Regions from separate parts of the Homo sapiens genome. Here region 1 is linked to region 2. Evidence: fine-mapped expression QTL. A gene starts in region 2. The other region holds a variant in brackets. All regions are shown on one strand. Distances are between the middles of the regions. Region 1 overlaps ZC3H3 (zinc finger CCCH-type containing 3). Region 2 holds the start of GPIHBP1 (glycosylphosphatidylinositol anchored high density lipoprotein binding protein 1).

Evidence for each region.
Region 1: its variant is fine-mapped to the expression of GPIHBP1 in stomach (GTEx, PIP 0.98).

What each region holds. Positions count from the first base shown.
Region 1 is chr8:143,445,367-143,456,961 of GRCh38, forward strand. The region is part of intron 9 of ZC3H3 (zinc finger CCCH-type containing 3); the gene reads right to left. Among named protein-coding and RNA genes, the nearest start is that of MAFA, 20 kb to the left of the region's middle. RefSeq lists an enhancer at 4,273-4,567. The variant G/A (reference allele first, on the strand shown) is at 5,846.
Region 2 is chr8:143,207,636-143,219,230 of GRCh38, forward strand. It overlaps GPIHBP1 (glycosylphosphatidylinositol anchored high density lipoprotein binding protein 1), which reads left to right and starts at 5,583. Exons shown (of 4, transcript NM_178172.6): 1 at 5,583-5,684; 2 at 6,187-6,315; 3 at 7,378-7,491; 4 at 7,624-9,535. The coding sequence starts at 5,633. The coding sequence ends at 7,883.

The DNA of each region.
Region 1 (11,595 bases), 240 kb after region 2:
GTGAAACTTTGTCTTAAGAAAAAAAAAAAAAAAGATAATAAAGAACCTTATTAAAACACATTAAAGGTAGGAGGCCAGGGCGGGAGGGTGGGAGGATTGCTTGAGACCAGGAGTTCGAAATCAGCCTGGGCAACACAGCAAGACCCTGTTTCTACAAAAGATTAAAAAAAAACAAAATTAGCCAGGTGTCATAGCATGTGCCTATAATCCCTGCTGCTTGAGAGGCTGAGGCAGGAGGATTACGTGAGCCCAGGAGTTGGAGGCTGCAGTGACCTATCATCACAACACTGCACTCCAGCCTGGGTGACACAGTGACACCCTGTCTCTGTCTCTTAAAAAAAAAAAAAGACATTAAAAGGGAGGGTCTAACTGAAGAAATACAGATGCCATCCCCACAGGCTGGCAGCTCACTGCTCTGGGGACAGATGCCCATTCCACCAAACCGAGCTACAGATTCAAGACAATCCCAATCAAAATTCCAACTTTTTTTTAACCTGACAAGAAAAATCTAAAATGTATTTCTGGGAGAATAATGGTCAAGAATAGCTGAAATTCGTTCTAAAAAAGAACAAGGTGAAAGAACTTGCTTTATTATTATGAAGCTCAAATAATTCAGAGCATGGTTTGGCTCAGGGACAAACTGACCAATGAACAAACAGAGAGCCAGAAGCAGAGCCCGCATCCACGCAGACCTCACGACAGGAGGGAGGGCTGCACCGCACACCCGCTGGAAACAATGGGCTTTTCGAGGCCAGGCGCTGTGGCAAAATGAAACTGGACCTCACCGCACACACCACACAAGAAAATCACCTCCAGCTGGATGAAAGTCTCAATGTGAAAGGTAAACACAACAAAATATTTAGAGGCAACTGAGCACAATCTGGTGTAGAGAAGAATTTCTTATTCAAGACACTAAGGGTGCAAAATGTAAAGAAAACTATAAAACTATGTCCGTTAAAATCAAGAACTTCTGATTTTCAACACGTCACAAAGAAATGCAAAGATAAACCACAAACAGAGAAGACATGTGACTAACAGATTAAAGTCCAGGACATTATATGTATTTTTATGTTTGTTTATGTTTATAAATTCCCTCTGAGTCAGTAAGAATCAAACAACCCAAAAGAAAAACACCCTCACCCTCACCAAAAAGATTCCAAAAATCACCAAAAAGATTTTCCAGAAGCGAAGACACAAAGGCCTTAGAAACATGGGAAAAGGTTTTCCACCTCAGTTTACATCAGAGAAATACCAATTTAAAATATCAGACAGCTTTTAATCCTTCTAATGGTCAAAAAGTAAAAAAAGGTTGAACACAGCCTTCACAGAAAGCACAGAGGCCCGTCCAAGCTGCCGAGCGTGACAGGCCAGGTGGCCTGGGTGGGCTCATGTTTCCAGCTAAGCCAATGTCCACACTGCCTGGCCATGCACTGAGGCACTGCTTCCCACAGGGGGCCCTCTGGGGCCTGGACTGGGGCCCGCAACCGGAGAACTGTCTTCAGATAACTAATTGGTCGTCTGCCTTTTCTATCAGCACCAAGACAGTGGAGAGCCTCAGGTGAATCTCCCAGGCACCAGGTCACCTTTTCCCCAAGCCAGCCTGGCCCTGGGAGCATGGTCCATAGGGAGACTCTTCCGGCCTGTGCTTGCGGAGCTGACATGAAGGGCACAGGGACTGGGCCAGGCTCCACGGCGCTCTCTTCCTTGGCCAAGAGCAGGCTGATTTGCCCAGCTGGCTTGACCACAGCAGCTCCCTCACCACCTGTGCTGATTCAGCCCAGGGCCTGAGGGGCCCCTGCCCTACCACAGCACCCAGCCCTGCTTAGTTCTCTCCTGGGGGTGAGGCCCTAACCCCACAGCCAGCAGCACCTCTGATGGCTGTGACGCACCCTTTGTCCCCAGCAGAGTTGCCAGCTTCCTTCCCACTGTCCAAAATCAAAGCTGCCCCCTCTACCACCACCAGCCACCTTGGAGGACGTGTTCCAGACACTTCTATCCACGCTCTCCATCTTTCTCACGCTCCTCTGCATTCCAAAATCAGTGACTTCATGGAATGTAGTATCTTGGAACAGAAAACAGCATCAGGGAAAACTGAGGAAATCTAAATAAGGTCTGGAGTTGACAGTTACACCACACCAAAGTGGATGTCTCAGTTCTGACAGCGAGATGGTACATGAGTCCATTCTCGCACTGCTATAAAGACATACCTGAGACTGGGCAATGTATAAAGAAAAGAGGTTTAACTGGTTCACAGTTCACAGGCCGTAGAGGAAGCATGGCAGCATCTGCTTCTGGGGAGGCCTCAGGAAGCTTCCAATCATGGCAGAAGGTGAAGTGGGAGGGAGGCACTTCACACGGCCGAGCAGGAGGACGAGAGAGAGCGGGGCAGATGCTACAGACTTTTAACTGACCAGATGTCATGAGAAGCCTACCACAAGAACAGGACTCGGGGGATGGTGCTCAGCCATTAGTAACCGGCAGGGATGGCCGGGTGTCGTGGCTCATGCCTCCCACCACTTTGGGAGGCTGAGGCGGGTGGATTGCCTGAGGTCAGGAGTTCGAGACCAGTCTGGACAACATGGGGAAACCCTGTCTCTACTAAAAATACAAAATTAGCCAGGTGTGGTGGTGCATGCCTGTAATCCTAGCTACTCAGCAGACTGAGGCAGAATTGCTTAAACCCGAGAGGCGGGGGGTTGCGGTGAGCTGAGAGAGTGCCATTGCGCTCCAGCCTGGGCAAAAAGAGTGAAACTCTGTCTCAAAAAACAAAACAAACAAACAAACAAAAAATTAGCCAGGCGTGGTGGGGCATGCCTGTAATCCCAGCTTCTAGGGAGGCTGAGGCAGGAGAACCGCTTGAACCTGGGAGGCAGAGGTTGCGGTGAGCCAAGATAGCACCATTGCACTCCAGCCTGGGCAACAAGACTGAAACTCTGTCTAAAAAAAAAAAAAGAGACCAGGCAAGTCCTTTCTACCTATGAACCCATAAAATCAAAACAAGTTAGTGACTTCCAAGATACAATGGAGGCATAGGTATTGGGTAAATACTCCCATTTCAAAAGGGAGAAATCAGCCAAAAGAAAGGGGTACAGGCCTTATGCAAGTTCAAAACACAGCAACGCAGTCATTAAATCTTAAAGCTCCAAAATCATCTCCTTTGACTCTACATTTCACATCCAGGGCACAGTGATGCAAGGGGAGGGCTCCCAAGTCCTCAGCCAGCTCCGCCGCCATGGCTCTGCAGGGTTCAGCCCCCACAGCTATTTTCAAGAGCCAGCACTGAGTGCCTGCAGCTTTTCCAGGTGCATGGTGCAAGCTGTCGGTGGATCTACCACTCCAGGGTCTGGAGGACAGTGGCCCTCTTCTCACAGCTCCACTAAACAGTGTCCCAGTGGAGACTCTGCGTGGGGGCTCCAATGCCACATTTCCCCCTAGCAGAAGTTCTCTATGAGGGCTTGACCCCTGCAGTAGGCCTCTGCCTGGACATACAGGCTTTTCCACGTATCCTCTGAAATCAGGCAGAGGCTCCTGAACCACAACTCTTGCACTCTGAGTACCTGCAGGCTTACCACTACGTAGAAGCTTCCAAGGCTTACTATGGTTTGCACCCCCTGAAGCAGTGACCAGAGCTGTGCCTTGGCCCCTTTGAGCCACAGCTGGAGCTGGACTGGCTGGACACAGGGACGCAGATCCTGGGGCTGTGCAGGGCAGTGGGGCTCTGGGCCAGGTCCAGGACACCATTCAGTTCTCCCAGGCCTCATGCCAGTGATGGGAGGGTCTGACATGAAGGTCTCTGAAATGCCTCTGAGGCTTTCTCCCCATTGTCTTGGTTATTAGCACTTGCCTTCCTTTTAGTCACACAAATTTCTATAGCCTGCTTGAATTCCTCCCCTGAAAATGGGCTTTTCTTTTCTACTACATGGCCAGGCTGCAAATTTTCCAAACTCTATTTCCCTTTTAAATATAAGTTCCAGCTTGAGGTCATTTCTTTGCTCACACATATGAGCACCGAATGTCAGAAGCAGCCAGGCTACACCTTGAACACTTTGCTGCTTAGAAACTTCCACCAGATTGGTTGTGTACAGTGGCTCATGCCTGTAATCCCAGCACTTTGGGAGGCCAAAACGGGTGGCTCACCTGAGGTCAGGGGTTCAAGACCAGCTTGGTCAACATGGTGAAACTATGTTTCCACTAAAACCCCATCTCTACCAAAATACAAAAATTAGCTGGGTGTGGTGGTACATGCCTGTAACCCCAGCTACTTGGGAGGCTGAGGCAGGAGAATTGCTTGAACCCAGGAGGCAGAGGTTGCAGTGAGCTGAGATTGCGCCACTGCATTCCAGCCTGGAGCAAGACTCCATGTCAAAAAAACAAACAAAACAAAACAAAACAAAACCCAGGAAATTTCCACCAGATAGCCTAAATCATCATTCTCCAGTTCAAAGTTCCACAGATCCCCATGGCAGGAACATAGTGCAGCCAACCTCTTTGCTAGCACATAACAAAAGTAACCTTTGCTCCAGTTCCCAATAAGTTCCTCATCTCCATCTGAGACCTCCTCAGCCTGGACTTCACTGTCCATATCACTCTGAGCATTTGGTCACAACAATTTAACAAGTCTCTAGAAAGTTCAAAACTCTCCTCATCTTGCTGTCTTCTTCTGAGCCCTCCACACTCTTCCAACCTCTGTGGGTTACCCAGTTCCAAAGCTGTTTCCACATTTTCAGGTATCTATATAGCAATGCCTCACTCCTCAGTACCAATTTTCTATATTAGTCCATTATCGCATTGCTGTAAATAAATACCTCAGACTGGGTAATTTATTTCTTTATTGAGACGGTGTCTTACTCTGCTGCCCAGGCTGGAGTGCAGTCACACAATCTCAGCTCCCTGCAACCTCCACCTCCAGGTTCGACCGATTCTCATGCCTCAGCCTCCCAAGTAGCTGGGATTACAGGCATGTACCACTGTGCCCACCTAATTCTTCTATTTTCAGTAGAGATGGGGTTTGGCCATGTTGGCCAGGCTGATCTTGAACTCCTGGCCTCAAGTGATCCACCCACCTCGGCCTTCCAAAGTGCTAGGATTACAGGTGTGAGCCACTGCACCCAGTCAAGACTGGGTAATTTATGAAGATAAGAGGTTTAATTGGCTCACAGTTCACAGGCTGTACAGGAAGCATGGCAGCATCTGCTTCTGGAGAGGCCTCAGGGAGCTTCCAATCGTGGCAGAAGGCAAAGGGGAGGCGAGGCACTTCACGCGGCTGAGCAGGTCGAGAGAGGGGGCTGGAGCAGGAGGTCGAGAGAGGGAGGAGGTGCTACACACTTTTAAACAGCCAGATCTTGTGAACATTCCATCACAAGAATAGCACTGGAGGATGGTGCTAAACTATTATAAACCATCCCCATGATCCAATCACCTCCCACCAGGCCCCAACTCCAACATCGGGGATGATAATTCGACATGAGATTTGGGCAGGGACACAGGTCAAAGCACATCACACTGCTAGCTGTGGATCTGCAGGACGCTCCTGGCAGGGGAGGCTGGCTGAGGGTGTATGGGAACTCTCTGTGATATGTCTGCAACTTTTTGGTAAATCTAAAATAATAACAAGTATATTAAACACAGTAAGTGACTGGATGCTTTCTACCCTGACCAGTGAACAAACCACCAGAGAAGGCCTGTGGGGCTGCTGTGGGGGACTGCGGGTGCCCACAAGGACAGCAGGGAGGGGCTCCTGAGAGGGAGGCCAAGAGCTCAAAGCACATCAGCCAGAACCCAAAACCTACAGACACGGGAACAGGTGCTCCCAGAGCAGAAGGCAGGAAGCAGGACAGGAGCCCGG[G/A]GAAAACCTAAAGCAGGAGGGAAATAATAAAGAGCAATGACAGAAGTCAATGAAAAAGAAAAGGAGCAAGCAACAAAGAACACTAGCAAAACCAAAAGCTGGTTGTCTGAAAAGGGCAATAAGACAGACATGCCCCTGGCAAGACTGTTCCCAGAAACAAGTGAGAAAACGCAAATTAAATACAGATGAAAAAAACTCTAGACGCGACAAAGGATGTTGTAGACACACCGACATGCACCCATACGTTGAAAACCTCAGTAAAACGGATCCACTTCTGGGGGAAAATAAGCCAAAACTGGCATTAAAAAGAAGTAGGCCGGGCACGGTGGCTCACCCCTGTAATCCCAGCACTTTGGGAGGCCAGGAGTTCAAGACCAGCCTGGCCAACATGGTGACACCCTGTCTCTACTAAAAATATAAAAATTAGCCTTGCATGGTGGTGCACACCTGTAATCCCAGCTACTTGGGAGGCTGAGGTGGGAGAATTGCTTGAACCCAGGAGACAGAGGTTGCAGTGAGCTGAGATCACACCACTGCCCTCCAGCCTGGGTGACAAAGTGAGACTCTGCCTAAAAAAAAAAAAAAAAGAAAAGAAAAGAAAAGAAAAAAGGAGGAGCTTGCATTGCATTGCTTGGAACACAGACCCAAAGTACCAACCTACCATCCCTGTACTTCCCGCTAAGTGCCACCGTAACAAACCCAAGCCACCTCTGGCTGCGGAGAAGGTGCTGATGGAAGGGATCGGGGCACGACTGGTGCTGGGTGCCCTTGGGCTGCTTCCTGCCCCATCCAAGACTTGGAGTCAAGGAAGCCACAGCCCAGAAATGCCCAGAGGCACAGGCAAAGGGCAGCCCAGCAAGACAGAAGGTCTCGGGCAACAGCCATCTATTCCAGCCAACACGCAAAACCACTGCACCCCCAGCCAGATCAGCAAAGGCTGAGGAGGGAGCCTGGACTCAACCCTGGCCAGGAGGCCCTTCCCTTCCTTGCCGGGGTGGTGAAAAGCCAGGACATTCACCCCTTCTCCATCCCCCACGGAGTCAGTGGAGGCCATGTGGAAGAGGCACTGTGGAACTCCTTCCCCCAAGGCAGGGAGGGAAGGTTCAGGGAAGGTCTGTTTTCCACACCACCCTCCACAGTGTCAATGAGGCCAAGTGCAGGGAGCTGGGTTTCCACTCCTAGCTGGCAAGAAGGAGGCAGCCCCTCCACCCAACAGCCAGCATGACTAGGCTCCCACAGAAAGTGGCTGCTCACACTAAGAACAAGGGAGGCTCCAAGCTCGGTGAAGAGGGGCAGCGCCAACGCTGACAGACAGGGCGTCAGAATTATTTCATAAAGACAGAACAGCATCACAAAGACACTTCTACATGCAATACAAACATGCTGGAAACAGAAGAAATAGAAAGTATCAACAGAGAAAAAGAAGATACAGTAGAACCAAATGAAAATTTTAGAACTAAAAAATACAATAACTGAAATAAAAAACTCAGTGTGTGGCACAACAGCTGAATGGATGAGACAGAGAACTGGAAGACAGAATAACAGAAATTAACCCATCTGAACAACAGAAAGAAAATAAGGTTTAAAAAATGAACAGAGCCTTCGGGACCTTGGGACCACAACAAAAGACCTAACATTCATGTAACTGGAGATGCAGAAACAGAGCAAAAAGAACTCAAAGAAATAATACAAACTTTACAAATTTGGTAAAACACATAAGCCTATAGATTCAGGAAGTTGAGCAAACCTCAGACAGGATAGACCAAAGACATCTACCCCAGATGTCAGACAGGATAGACCAAAGACATCTACCCCAGATGTCAGACAGTGAAAGTTAAAGACAAAGAAATAATCTTCAAAGCAGCCAGAGAGAAACTACATTATGTTTGTTTTTTTGAGACAGGGTCTCACTCTCTTGCCTAGTGGTACAATCATAGATCACTGCAGCCTCGACCTCCAGGGCTCAAGCAATCCTCCCAACTCAGCCACCTGAGTAGCTGGGACCACAGGCGCATGCCACCATGTGTGACTAATTTTTGTTTTTTTGTTTTTTTTTTTAAAGAGATGGGGTTTTGCCATGTTGACCAGGCTAATCTCAAACTCTTGGGCTCAAGCAGTTTGCCCACCTGGTTCTCCCAAAATGTTGAGATTACAGGAACGAGTCACAGCACCCCACAGAAACCACATTTTACCCACTGGGGAAAAATTCAAACAACAGTGGATTTCTAACTAGACACCATGGAGGACATAAGGAAGAGGCATAACATTCTTCAAGCTCAAAAGAAAGAACTGTCAACACAGAATCCCATATTCAGTGAATTATCCTTCTGGAATAAAGGGGAAATCAAGACATTCTCTGATGAAGAAAAACAATGTCACCAGCAGTCTTACCCTAAAAAGTGGTTAAAGTTCTCCAAACAAAAAGGAAACAAAAGAAAAAGGCTTGGCACAACAGGAAGGAATAAAGAACAAGATAAGCAAAAATATGGATAAACATACCAGACTTTCCATCTCTTCCCCAGTTTTTAAAATTATGTTTGATGACTGAAATAAAAATTATAACTGTGTCTGTTGTGGTTCTAACTTCTGTAGAGGAAGTATTCCAGATGGTTATAAAAGGGGAGGTTAAGGGAGATGAGGGAAGGTAGGGTTTCCACACTTCACTCAAACTGGCAAAACGACACCACCAGCAGACGTGGATCAGTCATGCAAATATAATATAATACCCAAGGTAAGCACTACAAAAGCTATATAGTGGTCCTCCCCTTTCCACTGTTTCACTCTCTGCAGTTTCAGTTACCTGAAGTCAACTGTGGTCCAAAAATATTAAATGGAAAATTCCAGAAATAAACAATTCATAACTTTTTCTTTTTTTTTTTTTTTTCCCAGATGGAGTTTCACTCTTGTTGCCCAGGGCTGGAGTGCAGTGGTGTGATCTCGGCTCACTGCAACCTCCATCTCCCGGGTTCAAGCAATTCTCCTGCCTCAGCCTCCCAAGTAGCTGGGATTACAGGTGCCTACCACCACACTCAGGTAATTTTTTTTTTTTTTGTAACTTTAGTAGAGACAGGGTTTCACCATGTTGACGAGGCTGGTCTTGAACTTCTGACCTCAGGTGATCTGCCCACCTTGGCCTTCCAAAGTGCTGGGATTATAGGTGTGAGCCATCGTGCCTGGCCAACAATTCATAATTTTTTTTTTTTTTTTGAGATGGAGTCTTTCACTGTCACCCAGGCTGGAGTGCAGTGGCGCAGTCTCGGCTCACTGCACTGCAAGCTCCGCCTCCCGGGTTCACGCCATTCTTCTGCCTCAGCCTCCTAAGTAGCTGGGACTACAGGCGCCTGCCACCATGCCCAGTTAATTTTTTTTGTGTGTGTTTTTAGTAGAGACAGGGTTTTACCGTGTTAGCCAGGATGGTCTCGATCTCTTGACCTCATGATCCACCTGCCTCGGCCTCCCAAAGTGCTGGGATTACAAGCATGAGCCACCGCGCCCAGCCAACAATTCATAAATGCTTAAGTGCATGCTATTCTGAGCAGTGTGATGAAATCTTGCACCGTCATGCTCTGTCCTGCCCAGGACATGAATCATTCCTTTTTCCACACTGTATACACGACCTAACATTAGTCACTTAGTAGCTGTCTCCCTCATCACACTGACTCTTGTGGTACTGCAGCACTTGTGTCCGGGTAACCCTTATTTTCATAAAAAATGGCCCCAAAGTGCAACAGTAGTGATGCTAACAATTTGGATAAGAGAAGCTGTAAAATGCTTCCTTTAGGTAAAAAGGTCAAAGTTCTCAACTTCAGAAAAAAAAAAATAGGCTGGGCGTGGTGGCTTACACCTATAATCCCTGCACTTTGGGAGGCCAAGACGGGTGGATCAGGGGGTCAGGAGTTCGAGACCACCCTGGCCAACACAGTGAAACCCCATCTCTACTAAAAATACAAACATTAGCTGGGTGTGGTGGCGGGGGCCTGTAATCCCAGCTACTCAGGAGGCTGAAAAAGGAGAATCACTTGAACCCAGGAGATGGAGGGTGCAGTGAGCCAAGATTGCACCACTGCACTCCAGCCTAGGTGACAGAGCTAGAGTCCATCTCAAAAAAATAATAATAAAAATAAAAATACAAAAATTAGCCAGGCGTGGTGGCGCGTGTCTGTAATCCCAGCTACTTGGGAGGCTGAAGCAGGAGAATCGCTTGAACCCGGAAGGCAGAGGTTGCAGTGGACAGAGGTTGTGCCACTGCACTGCACTCCAGCCTGGGTGACAGAGCGAGACTCTGCCCCCCCTCCCCAAAATAATAATAATAATATAATATTCTGAGGTTGCTGAGATCTACAGTAAGAATGAATCTTCTATCCAAGAAATTGTGAAGAAAGAAAAAAAGAAATTAATGTTAATTTTGCTGTCACACTGCAAACTGCAAAAGTTAGGGCTACAGTGTGTGATAAACGTTTAGTTAAGATTTAAAAAGGCAGCCGGGCGTGATGGCTCATGCCTGTGATCCCAGCACTTTGGGAGACCTAGGCGGGTGGATCATTTGAGGTCAGGAGTTCAAGGCCAGCCTGGCCAACATGGTGAAACCCCGTCTCTATTAAAAACATAAAAATTAGTCAGGCGTGGTGGTACACACCTGTAATCCTAGCTACTCAGGAAGCTGAGGCAGAAGAATTGCTTGAACCCAGGAGGCGGAGGTTGCAGTGAGCCAAGATCAAGATCACACTACTGCACTCCAGTCTGGGCGACAGAGTGAGACTCTGTCTCAAAAAAAAAAAAAAAAAAAAAAAAGACTTAAAAAAGCGTTTGATTTGTGGGTGGAAGATAATAGAAACATGTTCCAAATGATGGAATTGGGTTCCATGACATCTATGGGTTCAGGTATCCATGAGGGATCTTGGAATGTATCCCCCACAGAGAAGGGAAGACTACTGAATAAAGATCTATATTGAAAAACACTATAAGTAAATCAAATAAAAATTCTAAAAAGTGTTCAAGTAACCCATAGGAAGGCAGGGGGAAGAAAACCCACAGGGAAAAAAAGAACTAATAGAAAACAAAATAAATCAAATGATACACTTAAGCCCTAATATAGCAATAACCACATTAAATGTAAATGTCCTACATATATCAACTAAAAGACAGAGATTGGCAGAGTGAATTTTAAAACATGATTGAACTATCTGCTGTCTACAAGAAAGTCACTTCAAATATGACACATATATACATTTAAAGTAAAAAGAGAAAAAAAGACATGAAAACTTGATTCAAAGAAAACAGGCGTGGCTATATTAATATCAGAAAAAGATGACTTCAAAGCAAAGAAAATCATCAGAGACAGAAACATTATATAATAATAAAAGAGTAAATCGATCAAGAATGCATAGTAGGGCCACACTTATAATCCCGGCACTTTGGGAGGCCAAGGAGGACCACTTGAGGCCAGGAGTTGAAGACTAGCCTGAGCAACATAGCAAGACCCTATCTCTACAAAAAAAATTTTAAAAGTAGCCAGACATGGTGGTGCATGCCTGTAGTCCTAGCTACTCAGGAGGCTAAGGTGGGAGGATCGCTGGAGCTCAGGAGTTTGAGCTTGCAGTGAACTGTGATTGTGCCGCTGAGCTACAGCCTGGGCAACAAAGCGAGACCCAGTCTCTAAACAAACAACAACAACAACAACGAAAAGAATGCACAGCAATTCTAATGTAAATGCACCAAACAAAAAAGCTGTAAAATACATGAAGCAATAA
Region 2 (11,595 bases):
TGCCTGGGACCAACTGTGTCTCCCTGGAGTGTGGCTGCCCGGGACCCACTGTGTCTCCCTGGAAGGCTGAGGCTCTGAGGTTGGGTACCATTTCCAGCAGGTGGCTGGATATCATCAGGGTATCCCACCCTGGGGCTCACTGCATCCTGGCCCTCGAGCTTGGGGCCTCTCCTCACCCACCTCACACCCCAAATCCAGTTGGATCCAAAGGACCAACTGTGAGAAAGCCATTGCGGTGGCCCGGGAGGCCCTGCGTCCCCATAGTCACTAGAGCCACCTCGACACTTGGTGCAGGTGGTCAGCTGCCCATCACCACCTGCGGGCAGAGGGAGGCCCCACCCAAGACCACCTCCCGTGGCCTCCTCCCTCCCCTCCTCCTTGCTTCCCCCACCTAACCTCCTATCCTCTCCCCTGCCCCTCCAGTGGGGCCACTGTGGAAAACACTGGAAGTTCTGCCTCCATGCCTGCCAGGAGTCTGAGTGGGACATCCCAGTGACGTGGTCCTGATGTGCAGAGGCTGCCAGGAGGCCCTGTGCCACCCCCAAGGCTGGGGGCCCACGCCATAGCCTGGGGGGGCTCCTGCCTGCCCTGGGCTGCACCTCTCTGGCTTCTCTGGTAGCTGCTCTCCCTCCACACACCCTCTCCCCGCCGCTGTGGGTGAGTGCCTGCCGCTCACCCACCCACACACAGATCCCACCCTGAGCTCAGCCATCAAGTTCCTGCCTTCCAGGGACTGCAGGGCCCCAGGCCTCTCATTCGCAGGCCTCTGCTGGGTGGCAGGGCCCAGGGGTCGGCTTGAGCAGAAGACATGGCCCTGCAGATCAGTGGCCAAACGTGGACCTTGACAGAAGGCGAGCCCAGCGGGCAGTCTCCATATGAACACACAGCAGCAGGCGCAGATCCTGCCTTCTCCTGTTCCTGCAGAAAGCAACGTGCTGGGACACTCAGTCCTCGGCTTCCTCCGCTTCCTGTTTTTCTGATCAGGATGTAAAGAGCTTCTTCACTGTCATACAGCTGCAAAGTATCCCTGCATCGTTATTTTTAGTCTCTTTCAATATTGTGAAATTGCTACATTGTTTTTAACATTTTAACAATCTCACTGTGAAGGAGATTGATTTCTAAACGGATAAAATAAATGATAGGAACAATGTATTCCTTGCTCTTGCATTTTTCCAAGAGGGGGACCCAGTACGGCCATAGGGGGATGTTAAAGCCAAGCCTTGAATCCCTCCGAGGGCACCGAGCTAGGGGTGGGTACAGGAGTGCCGCTGTGGAGAAAGGTCTCTGGAGAGGATGGTGCCTGGGCCCTGCCTCTAGAAATCGAAGATGGATAGTGGCAGGAGGCAGCGGGGGTGGGAGCTTGAAGGACCATCTGAAGCTCTGCTAAGCGGAGCTAGACAGAGATCAGTCACCCTCACAAGTGGGGGACAAGAGGGACCCCCTTGGAAGAGCAAGGGAAAGGAGACTCTCCAGGGTTATGGTGGTGGGGCTGAGGGTGTCTAAGGACTAGGAAATGGAGCATAGAGGGTTCCAGGTGCAGAGCAGCATGGAGGGGAGCTGGGAGGCCAGGGAGGGTACCTGAGTGAACCACACGTGAACGAGTTAATGAACGAGCTTCTGGAACCAGGATGTGTTTCCCTCGTGGGTTCTAGGGGTGCCTGGGAGCTGCAGGACCCGTGGGAGCTGCTCCCCCTGGCCGGCCCGCCCACCCACAGCTACCTCTGAGTGCTGGATCCCAGGAAAGAAAAAGGGCTTGTACCTCAGTGCACATGGTGGGCAGCCTGCTCAGCCTGGCACTGTGGGGTCATCAGAATCAGAGAGAGCCGGGCACAGCGACTCACTCCTGTAATCCCAGCACTTTGGGAGGCCGAGGCGGGTGGATCACCTGAGGTCAGGAGTTCAAGACCAGCCTGGCCAACATGGTGAAACCCTGTCTCTACTAAAAATACAAAAATTAGCTGGGCGTGGTGGTGCGAGCCTGTAATCCCAGCTACTCAGGAAGCTGAAGCAGGAGAATCGCTGGAACCCCGGAGGCGAACATTACAGTGAGCCAAGATCCTGCCATTGCACTCCAGCCTGGGCGACAGAGTGAGACTCTGTCTCAACAAAAGAAATAAATAAATAAAAATAAGCGGAGAGTAACCCCAGGGGAGGAGAGTCTGGACTCTGCTCTAAAAACAAGCCCCTCCCTCTGCCAGACTCAGGTTCAGTGAGACAAGAGAAGGTTGGCTGCAGAGAGGGCAGGAAGGAGCTCAGAGCAGGGAAAGTGTTGCAAGGGCCAGCACATCTGCAGTCTGCATCTGCCCCAAAAGGCCCTACTCTCCCGGTATGGACACCCTACACTTGCCCCTCAGTCAGAAACACTTGCCCACCCTTCCTTATAGAAAAACTCTGCTCACCCCTCAGGCCCAGCCCCAAGGTGCCCTCCTCCCAACGCCTCCCTCATTCCAAACCCAATCTCACGGCAGGCTGCCTCCCAGAGATGGCAGTGCACAGGTCTGGATCTGACTCGAGCTGGTGTCAACACGGGGGAGGGCGTACAGAGTAGGACGCGCAGGCCCAGGACAGGGCCACACAGCCCCCCAGGACAGCAGAGCCCATGGCCCCACCTGGGCATGATGCCAGCATGGACCCTGCCTGCCGAGCCCCGCCCCCACATGTCACCTAGGCAGGATGGAGTGTGGATGGCCAGGCATCCCCTGTCCACAACCAGCACCAAGCTCTGAGCCCAAGGCTGCCGCTGCCAAAAAGAGCCACGTGAGTCATGCAGGCCCCACCGTGAGAGGAGGCCCAGAGAACCGCTGTGTCAGAAGGGCCAGCCCCACGAGCCAGCAGAGCAGGCAAGTCCAGGCCCCAAGGCACAGAGGTCTGTGGGCAGGGAGCGGGGGTGGCCGGGCTGCCCTTCAACGGTGCCCTGGGGTGTGCGCATGGCTCAGGGAGGAAGCCTGGGCCTGGAAAGGCGGTTGAGCCCAGGGGCGCAGGTGCAGGCTCGAAAATGACCCATGCAGCTGCCATCAGGACCACCAGACCTTAGCCCTGGCCCTGGGGGACCACAGCCCTGCCCTGAAGGTCTTAGGCATCATATCTTCACCCTGGAGTGTCTGAGAGGTCATGACCTTGCCCTGGGGGCTTGAGGGAGGCTGCGTGGTGCCTGGGTGGGATGAGGGGGTGGGCTCCACATACAGAGCCCACCACGCCTACCTGCCGGCTGTAGGCAGTGCTGGGGAACCAGGTGTCTGCCACTGCGGGTCCCCTTTCACACCTGCGCACCATCCCAGGTGGCACCTTCTGTAGGGGCTGGACCAGACCCACTAGCCTTTCCGGGGCGGGACAGAGGGAACAGCCTCTCAGTGGCGAGCACTAAATTTAATTCAATCTGCGAATCAAATGTGCTCTGATTGTCCCTAGGTGATTCTCGCAATAAGCACTTGCCTGGGCTGGGCAGTTTGCACCTGGGCTGAAGAGGAGCTGGGCCCAGAGGGAGGCAACGTGCAAGGGCCTGGGCCCCTGTGGAGGGGAGGCGGCAGGTGGAGGCCCCTTGAGAATCCCAGTAGCGCCCTTCCTAGGAGCAGCTCCTGCAGCACTAGATTCAAGGGCCTGTAGCGGTAGCCGGGGCGGGGCGCGGGGGAGGTAGGGCAGCAGGAAAGCGGGGCACCAGGGAAGAGGGGCGACAGGGAGGCGGGGCGTGGGGGAGGAGGGGTGAAGATGACGGGAGGCGGTGCACGGGGGAGGCGGGGCACAGGAGAGGCGGGTCGACAGGGAGGTGGGACGCTGGGGAGAAGGGGCGAATGGGGGCGGGGCGATGGGGAGGCGGGGCGACGGGAAGTAGGGGCAGTGGGGGAGGCGGGGCATGGGGTAGACAGGTGTGGGGGAGGCGGGGCACCAGGGAAGCGGGGCGTGGGGGGAGGCGGGGCGTGAGAGAGGCGGGGCAGTGGGGGAGGCGGGGCGTGGGGGGAGGCGGGGCAGTGGGGGAGGCGGGGCAGTGGGGGAGGCGGGGCGTGGGGGGAGGCGGGGCAGTGGGGGAGGCGGGGCAGTGGGGGAGGCGGGGCAGTGGGGGAGGCGGGGCGTGGGGGAGGCGGGCCGAGGGCGAGAGGGCGCAGGGAGGCGGGTGGGGGTGGGGCCACGCGCGGAGGGGCAGGGAAGGGCGGGGCGGGGCGGGGCGGGACGGGGCTGGGGGGGACAGGCATCAGGTATGAAGAGTTTGGGGCTGGCGGGGCGTGTCCGGCTGTGGCGTGGGCACCACTATGGGAGACCCTGGCTTGGCAAGTGACCTTGCAGCCTTGGCTGGGGAAGGGCTAGATGCTGGGTGGGTGCCGGTAGAGTGGAAAGAATGACAGGTTCAGGTGAATTAAGGAAGGATGGTTGACTCGGTGGCTGGGACATTAGAGACAGGTATTCCCAGCCTCAGGCGCTGTCCTAAGCCCAGCAGGTACTGACCCTTGATGGTCACCTCACCCTATGAGGGAGCTGAGGCCTGGGGAACCCAAGGGGCTAGTCCAGAACCCACAGCCGGGGGAAGGAGGAACCGGGTCTTAAACCCAGGTAGCTCACTCCAGAACCAACTCAACCTCTGTTACAGGTGGCCGGCCAGAAAATGCCCCACCCCACCCATTGACAGTCGGGGAAACTGAGGCCTCAGTAGGTGAAGTGCCTGGCCCAAGCACCAAGGCACACAGAGACGCTCAGGCTTGACCCTGGCTCCGGACGTCCAGCCCCTGCCGCTGCCCCACCCCTCTGCTGCCCTTGGGAGAGGGGCAGCTCAGAGCCTCGACTCTGCACTCTGCATCAGCACCCCCCAAGGGCTTGGGTGGGGTCTTGAGAGGAGGGGGTGGCCTCAGGGAGCGACCTGGGCTTTCCAAGCCTCTCCCAGAGCAGCCCGTCTCTCACACAAGGCCAGAAGGCAGGTGGGTGCTGATGGCTTTCCCAGCAAGAGACCGAGGGGGCGGGCCCCCAAGAGCTCCAGAAAGCTCTCCACCGGACACCAGCAGGAACAGCACTGCAGATGGAGCAGCAGGGGCAAAGACCCGAGGTGATAGTGAGGGGCAGCCGGGAGGCCTTGGGCCTAGCAGTGCATTGCTGAGTGTGGGTGAGGAGGAGGTGAGCACGCAGCCTTAGCTTGAGGGCATTGACTGTGTTTTTACTTAAATGCTCTTAAAGGGGCCTGGGTGTGATGCTGACTCTAGGATGACGATGCTTGGCCAGTGACCAGCAAATAGAGGGTCTGTGACCCCAAGGTCCTGTGACTATGGAGCCCAGACATGGGGTTGAGGGGTGTCAGGCATGGCCCATTCCGGGGCGAGGCTCCCTGCCCTGCACTGCAGGGCTGAGGCACTGAGCGGCAAGCCAGGCGAGGGCCAGCACCACCTTCCACCTGCCGTGGCACGGGTGCACAGGACGTTCCAAGGCCAACCACAATGACTTCTCCTTCCCCTCTGGCCCCAGATGTCCTGGAGGGAAACAACAGTCCCTGGCCTGGCGCCTGGAGCTGGGGACCAGTGTGAGGCCCATTGTTTGAGGCTGGAGCTGGTGGGGGCCACTAGGAAGCCCACGGCAATGCCCTTCATCCCACTTACCGCAGCTCCAGAGCCCTGCGGGAGGACTCAGAGTCAGGGACACAGCAGCGTCCGGCGAGATGAAGGCGCTCGGGGCTGTCCTGCTTGCCCTCTTGCTGTTCGGGCGGCCAGGTGCGGGGCAAAGGGTAACCCTGCGGTGAGGGGGCAGCAACAGCAGTCCTGGAGCACAGGGACCTCCAGGGACCCCCAGCAGGGGCTTAGGAAGAAGGAGGGGATGAGGCTGGAGTCCCCAGCCCAGAGCAGCATGGATGGAAGCTGGCCTGGGTCCCCGAGAGTCCCCAAATATCTGCGCCCCTGTTTATGTGGGGTGCGGGGAGGGGCTACCATAAAGGGCCAGCCCACAGCAGCTGCTGTTGTAACTACAATGCCAGGGCACACTCGGCTGCAGGACAGTGAGTAGGGTGAGTAGGGTAGTAGGACAGTGAGTAGGGTGAGTAGGCTGCAGGACAGTGAGTAGGGTGAGTAGGGTGTTCAGGGTAGGGGCCCTCCCCAGCCACCCTGGGGCCCGAGGATGGCTGGGGAGGGCCAAGGAGTTGGGGGCACGATGCTTGCCCAGAGCAGGTGTCCTCCATACCCGGGTAGCTGAGGCTTACAAGCATCCCTGCACGGCCAGGGAGAGGGCAGACACAGCAGGAGGAAGAGGAAGAGGACGAGGACCACGGGCCAGATGACTACGACGAGGAAGATGAGGATGAGGTGGAAGAGGAGGAGACCAACAGGCTCCCTGGTGGCAGGAGCAGAGGTATGGCCGCCCCAACCCCAGAGCCCTGCTGCCTGATCTGCCTGGAGCATTCTGGGCGGGGCTGTGTGATGGAAGCCAGCAGGCCACAGTCCTGCTGTGAGCTTGCCTCCAGCAGAGTGGGGGACACTCAGTACACCCCTCACTGCTGCTCACCATGACACTCAGTTGCCTTCCAGAGTAGGGAACAGGGGAAGAAGCCACCAGCTGGGAGGGTCAGTGGTGCCAGGATGTAGAGGTTAAATAGGAGTTCACCAGGCAGAGAAGGGCTCAGTGGGGGCCTAGGGTGGAGACACAAGCACAGAGGCCCCAGGGTAGGGTTCAGTTTTGTGGGGCAGAGAGAGCAGCAGGGTGGGCCGGTCCTGTACAGGGGAGGGCTGGATTGGCTGCTGCGGGCTGGGGAGCCAGGGAACCGCTTAGAGCAGAGCAGAGTAGGGCTAAGAAGAGCCCACCCTCACTGCCCACCTGACACACCCCTACACGTGGGCCACCCTCTGCTCTCTCCCATCCCGAGAAAAGCAGAGCAAATCGCCGCATCCAACCCGAGGGCCGGCCCCTCCCTAGCCAGGGACCACAGCGTGCCCCACCACACACAGCCCCTCCCTAGCCAGGGCCCCCAGCATGCCCCACCACACACAGCCCACCCCCCTCCCAGGAGCCCCAAGCCTGCCCTCAGCACGAGCCCTGCCCCACACACCCACGAGGTGTCCCCTGTGAGGCCCTCCTCTGCCAGGCCTGGTGCTCCTGGAGGCAGGACTGAGTCAGACCCACCTCCAGGTTTCTGTGACCACGGCAGGAGCCTGGGCAGCATTGTCGCAGGACGTGAGTGATGATGGGAAGTTCGCCCTGCCTGACCCGCAATCCCTTGCCCCCTAAACACACAGGCTCACGCACACAGCACAGCTTACAGGACCAAGTCAGGGGTCGCCCGCCCATCTGAGCAGTGGGTGCTGGAGGCTCACCAGGCTAGGCTTTGGGAGCACAGCTGAGAACGGGGAGGTGGACAGGGACGTGGGAGGAGACCCTGGGGGGCCCGGCCTCGGCCTGAGCCCGCCTTGTCCCCAGTGCTGCTGCGGTGCTACACCTGCAAGTCCCTGCCCAGGGACGAGCGCTGCAACCTGACGCAGAACTGCTCACATGGCCAGACCTGCACAACCCTCATTGCCCACGGGAACACCGGTAAGTGGGCGTGGGGCCGCAGCACATGCACCCCCAGGCGGCGGGAAAGCCAGGGGCCCGGAACAGAGCCCTGCAGAGCCACCTCAGAGACCCCGCCCATCCTCAGCACTTGTTCCCCACTCCCCTTCCCAGAGTCAGGCCTCCTGACCACCCACTCCACGTGGTGCACAGACAGCTGCCAGCCCATCACCAAGACGGTGGAGGGGACCCAGGTGACCATGACCTGCTGCCAGTCCAGCCTGTGCAATGTCCCACCCTGGCAAAGCTCCCGAGTCCAGGACCCAACAGGCAAGGGGGCAGGCGGCCCCCGGGGCAGCTCCGAAACTGTGGGCGCAGCCCTCCTGCTCAACCTCCTTGCCGGCCTTGGAGCAATGGGGGCCAGGAGACCCTGACCCACGGCCCCTCCCCACCCCCACCCGGCTCACCCCCGGCCCTGCCAGCACTCTGTCTGGTACCTTCCCCTCCTGCCCCTGCACCAGCTTTGGAGAATGGATTTGGAGTGTCTTGGGCGATCCAGCCAGCGCAGGCCCCCCGGCCCGGTTGCTTCCTCAGTTCCCGGCTGTGTCCTTGGTGTCCTTTCTCCACCACCTGTGAGCAGCAAGACTGCCGCACGTGGGCGCTGGGTCCAGACCTCGGCTGCCACGCCCCAGGACCTGCAGCCCTCATGGGGGCTGGGGATCCCCATCAGCACAGCCAGGCAGAGATGATACCCACCACACACCTGGGGGCCCCCACACCCAGTCCTCACCCTTAACTTCTGCCATGGGAATTCCTCCATCTGCAGCGGTCACACGGGCCCACCCTGCCCTTCCCCAGGTCGGCCTCTCCGCTGTCTGGAGGGAAGGGGATTTGGAGGGAGGCTGTCGTCGCCCCCAGGAAAGACGGGCCTGGGGGAGGCGGGACAGTGGGAGAGGCGCGCTGAGGATGAGAGGGCACAGGGAGGTGGGTTGGGGTGAGGCCACATGCGGAGGGGCGGGGCGGGGGGGGGCTGGGGGGACAGGCACCAAGTATGAAGAGGATGGGGCCAGCGGGGCCTGTCTGGCTATGGCGTGAGCACCGCTATGGGAGACCCTGGCTTGGAAAGTGAACTTGCAGCCTTGGATGGGGAAGGGCCAGATGCTGGGTGGGTGCCTGTCACCTTGAGGTGACCATCTAGGGTCAGTACCTGCTGGGCTTAGGACAGCGCCTGAGGCTGGGAATACCTGTCTCTGCTCTAGCAGAGGCTAAAGCAGGCTAGAGCAGTGGAGGGGTGGAGTTGATGAAAGGAGAGGAGTAGATGAGATGGAATTTTTCCAGCCTCATCCTGGCCTGCCCTCTAGACTCCAGTCCCCAAGCCCTCAGCCTAGTGGGTGTCATGGATGGATCTGGGGGTGTCAGACAGGCTACCCTGTGCCAGGGAGGGGGCAGAATGGGCCTGCAGCTTCCTGCAGAGGAAGCAGGACTGGGTAGCAGAGCCGGGAAGGTGGGTGGCCCATTACAGGGGGGTCCCCAGGGTGTCCTCTGGCAGGGCTGTGACTGCTGCAAGCTCTGCCTTCACCAGTAGCTGGTGCCAGGACAGAGCTCTGGGACAGCAGGCAGAGGCCGAGCCTGGGCCACAGCTCAGCCACTGACTTGGGTATCAGTTTCCCCTTCTGAGAAGTACAGAGTGAGACTTAAAGAACCCCTAGATCCCCACCAGTTCAACACTCCATTAACTGGGAAGCCCAGAGTCCTGTCCGGCCTGCCAAGTTCATCCTGGTGGACAGCGGGAGGCCTCCGCTAACTGTTCTCTTCTTTTCCTTATTAATAAAACACACAATGCCTAGCTGGGGGGTCGGAAGGCAAATGCCCTAGATGGTGGGGTCACGTCTTTCTCCTTCTCCTTCCTCCTTCTGCTGGCTGAAGTGATGACTGGAGCTCAGCAACCACTTTGCACCATGAGGCAGCACTGAGCACGGTAGGGCAGCCTGGTGAGAGGGGCCTAGCTCGCTGCCGACAGAAGTCACTGCCTACCTCAGGGTCCCCTTACCTGGGTGGGAAATAAATTTCTGCTGTGTTGAAGCTAGTTATTTGGGGTGTCTGTTACTTGCATTTTCACACTGACACATGCACATGTGTGCACACGAACACGCACGCCTACAGCCCCACTGGAGCACAGTGCAGGGGTCAGGCTGCCTGCTTCGAATCTAAGGCCCAGCCCTCCCCAGCTCCATGACCCTGGAAGCCCCTTCACCTCTCACTTGGCTCCGTCCAGCGGGAGTCCTAGGAGAGCCCTCCTTGTGGGCTACAGTGAGGATCCTCCAGAGTGCTGGAGCACCACGTGTCAGGGCTTACAGCCCCGTGCCTGGCAGAGAGCAAGTGCTCGACAAATGGGAGCTGTGGCCATCAGGACACTTCTCATGACCCCACTCTTCACTTGCCATCTGTATGTGTGAACATAGCACATGCCCCACCTGAGCCAGCCCCAGACCCTCATGATCCAAAGAAACCTCGTTAACCACACCCGACTTAGAAACACTGGGCGACGTAACCTGAGTTCGCCAAATGCTTCCTTCAAACTGATGCCTTAAAGCCCTGCACAGCTCTGAGTGGACAGACCCCCACCCCTCCCGGCCCACACCACCTCCTGGCGTGCAGTCTGAAGCCACTGGCTGTAGGGCCTGCCCCAGCCTTGGGGTCCTGTCTCTTCTCCCAGGGTCCTGGGCCCTGCCAGCAGCTGGGTCCCTCATCCTTGCCCCTGAGGAAGCAGAAAGCCCAGTCAGACTCTCCTGGGGCTCTCACCTGACCTGCCCAAAGGCACGGGAGCTGTGAGTGTCTCCGCAGCTATAGAAGCCAGAGAGGGGCCAATACAAGAACAGAGAAGCCCATCAGCCAGTACCCATCCCCACACCACCCCCACACCCCCTCAACACCACCCCCAACACCACCCAACACCACCCCCACACCACCCACCACCACCCACCACAAGCCCCAACACCACCCACAACTCCACCCCCCACACCACCCCCAACACCACCCCCAACACCACCCAACACCACCCCACACCACCCCCACACCACCCAACACCGCCCCCACACCACCCACCACCACCCACCACAAGGCCCAACACCACCCCCACACCACCCCCAACACCACCCCCACACCACCCCAACACCACCCCCAACACCACCCCCACACCACCCCAACACCACCCCCAACACCACCCCCAACACCACCCCCAACACCACCCCCACACCACCCCCACACCACCCCCACCACCACCCCAACACCACCTCACACCATCCCCAACACCACTCCCAGCAGCTCACAGAGGGCTTTCTCCTGGCACCCACTCAGGCTCTGAGCAGGAAGAGAGGGTATCGTGCTTAGCTGTCTACGGTGGGCCCTGTCACAGCCCCCCGAGGTACGAAAGCCTGCAGCTGCGACATGAGGCTCGAGCTCAAGGTCACACAGCTGGGCGGTACAGATCCAGGATCCAGTCCCCGGGCTTCCTGCCAACCGCACCCAGCTTCCCAGAGGTGTCCCAGGCTCCAGGACGCCTCAGCTGGGGAGGAGCTGGATGCCAGCCAAGAGCCAGCCAGATTCCCAGGCCAAGTCGAGTCTGAGCCAGGCAAGTCAGCGGTGCCAACGGGCGGATGGTCACAGCCAAGACACCCTGGGCCCCGTCTCAGAGCCCAACGCATGCTGTCAGTCTCAAGAGTGAACATAGAGGGACCTCCCTTTCTCATCCAGCCCAGCAGCAGGGAGACTGGGGGCTGGGGGGCTGGGCAGGGAGGGGGCGGGGTCTGGGCAGGGAGGGGGCAGGGCCCTGGCCCAAGAACCCATGTCCCTCTGTACCAGTTTCCCAGGGCTGCCATAACAAATCACCACGAACCTAGTGACTTAACACAAGTTCATGCTGTGGCTCTGGAGGTCAGAAGTTCACGTCAGGGCTCTGGCTGGGCTGCGTTTTCTTGGGAGAGAATCCACCCCCGCCCTCTCAGCTTCAAGAGGCCACCTGCTCTCCTTGGCTCATGGCCCTTCCTCCACCTTCGAAGCCGCTCCAACCACTGCTCCCTCACCAGCTTCCCGAGTCAGCTCTCCCTCGGCCTCCTTCTTACAGGGATCCTGTGACCACAGTTAGGA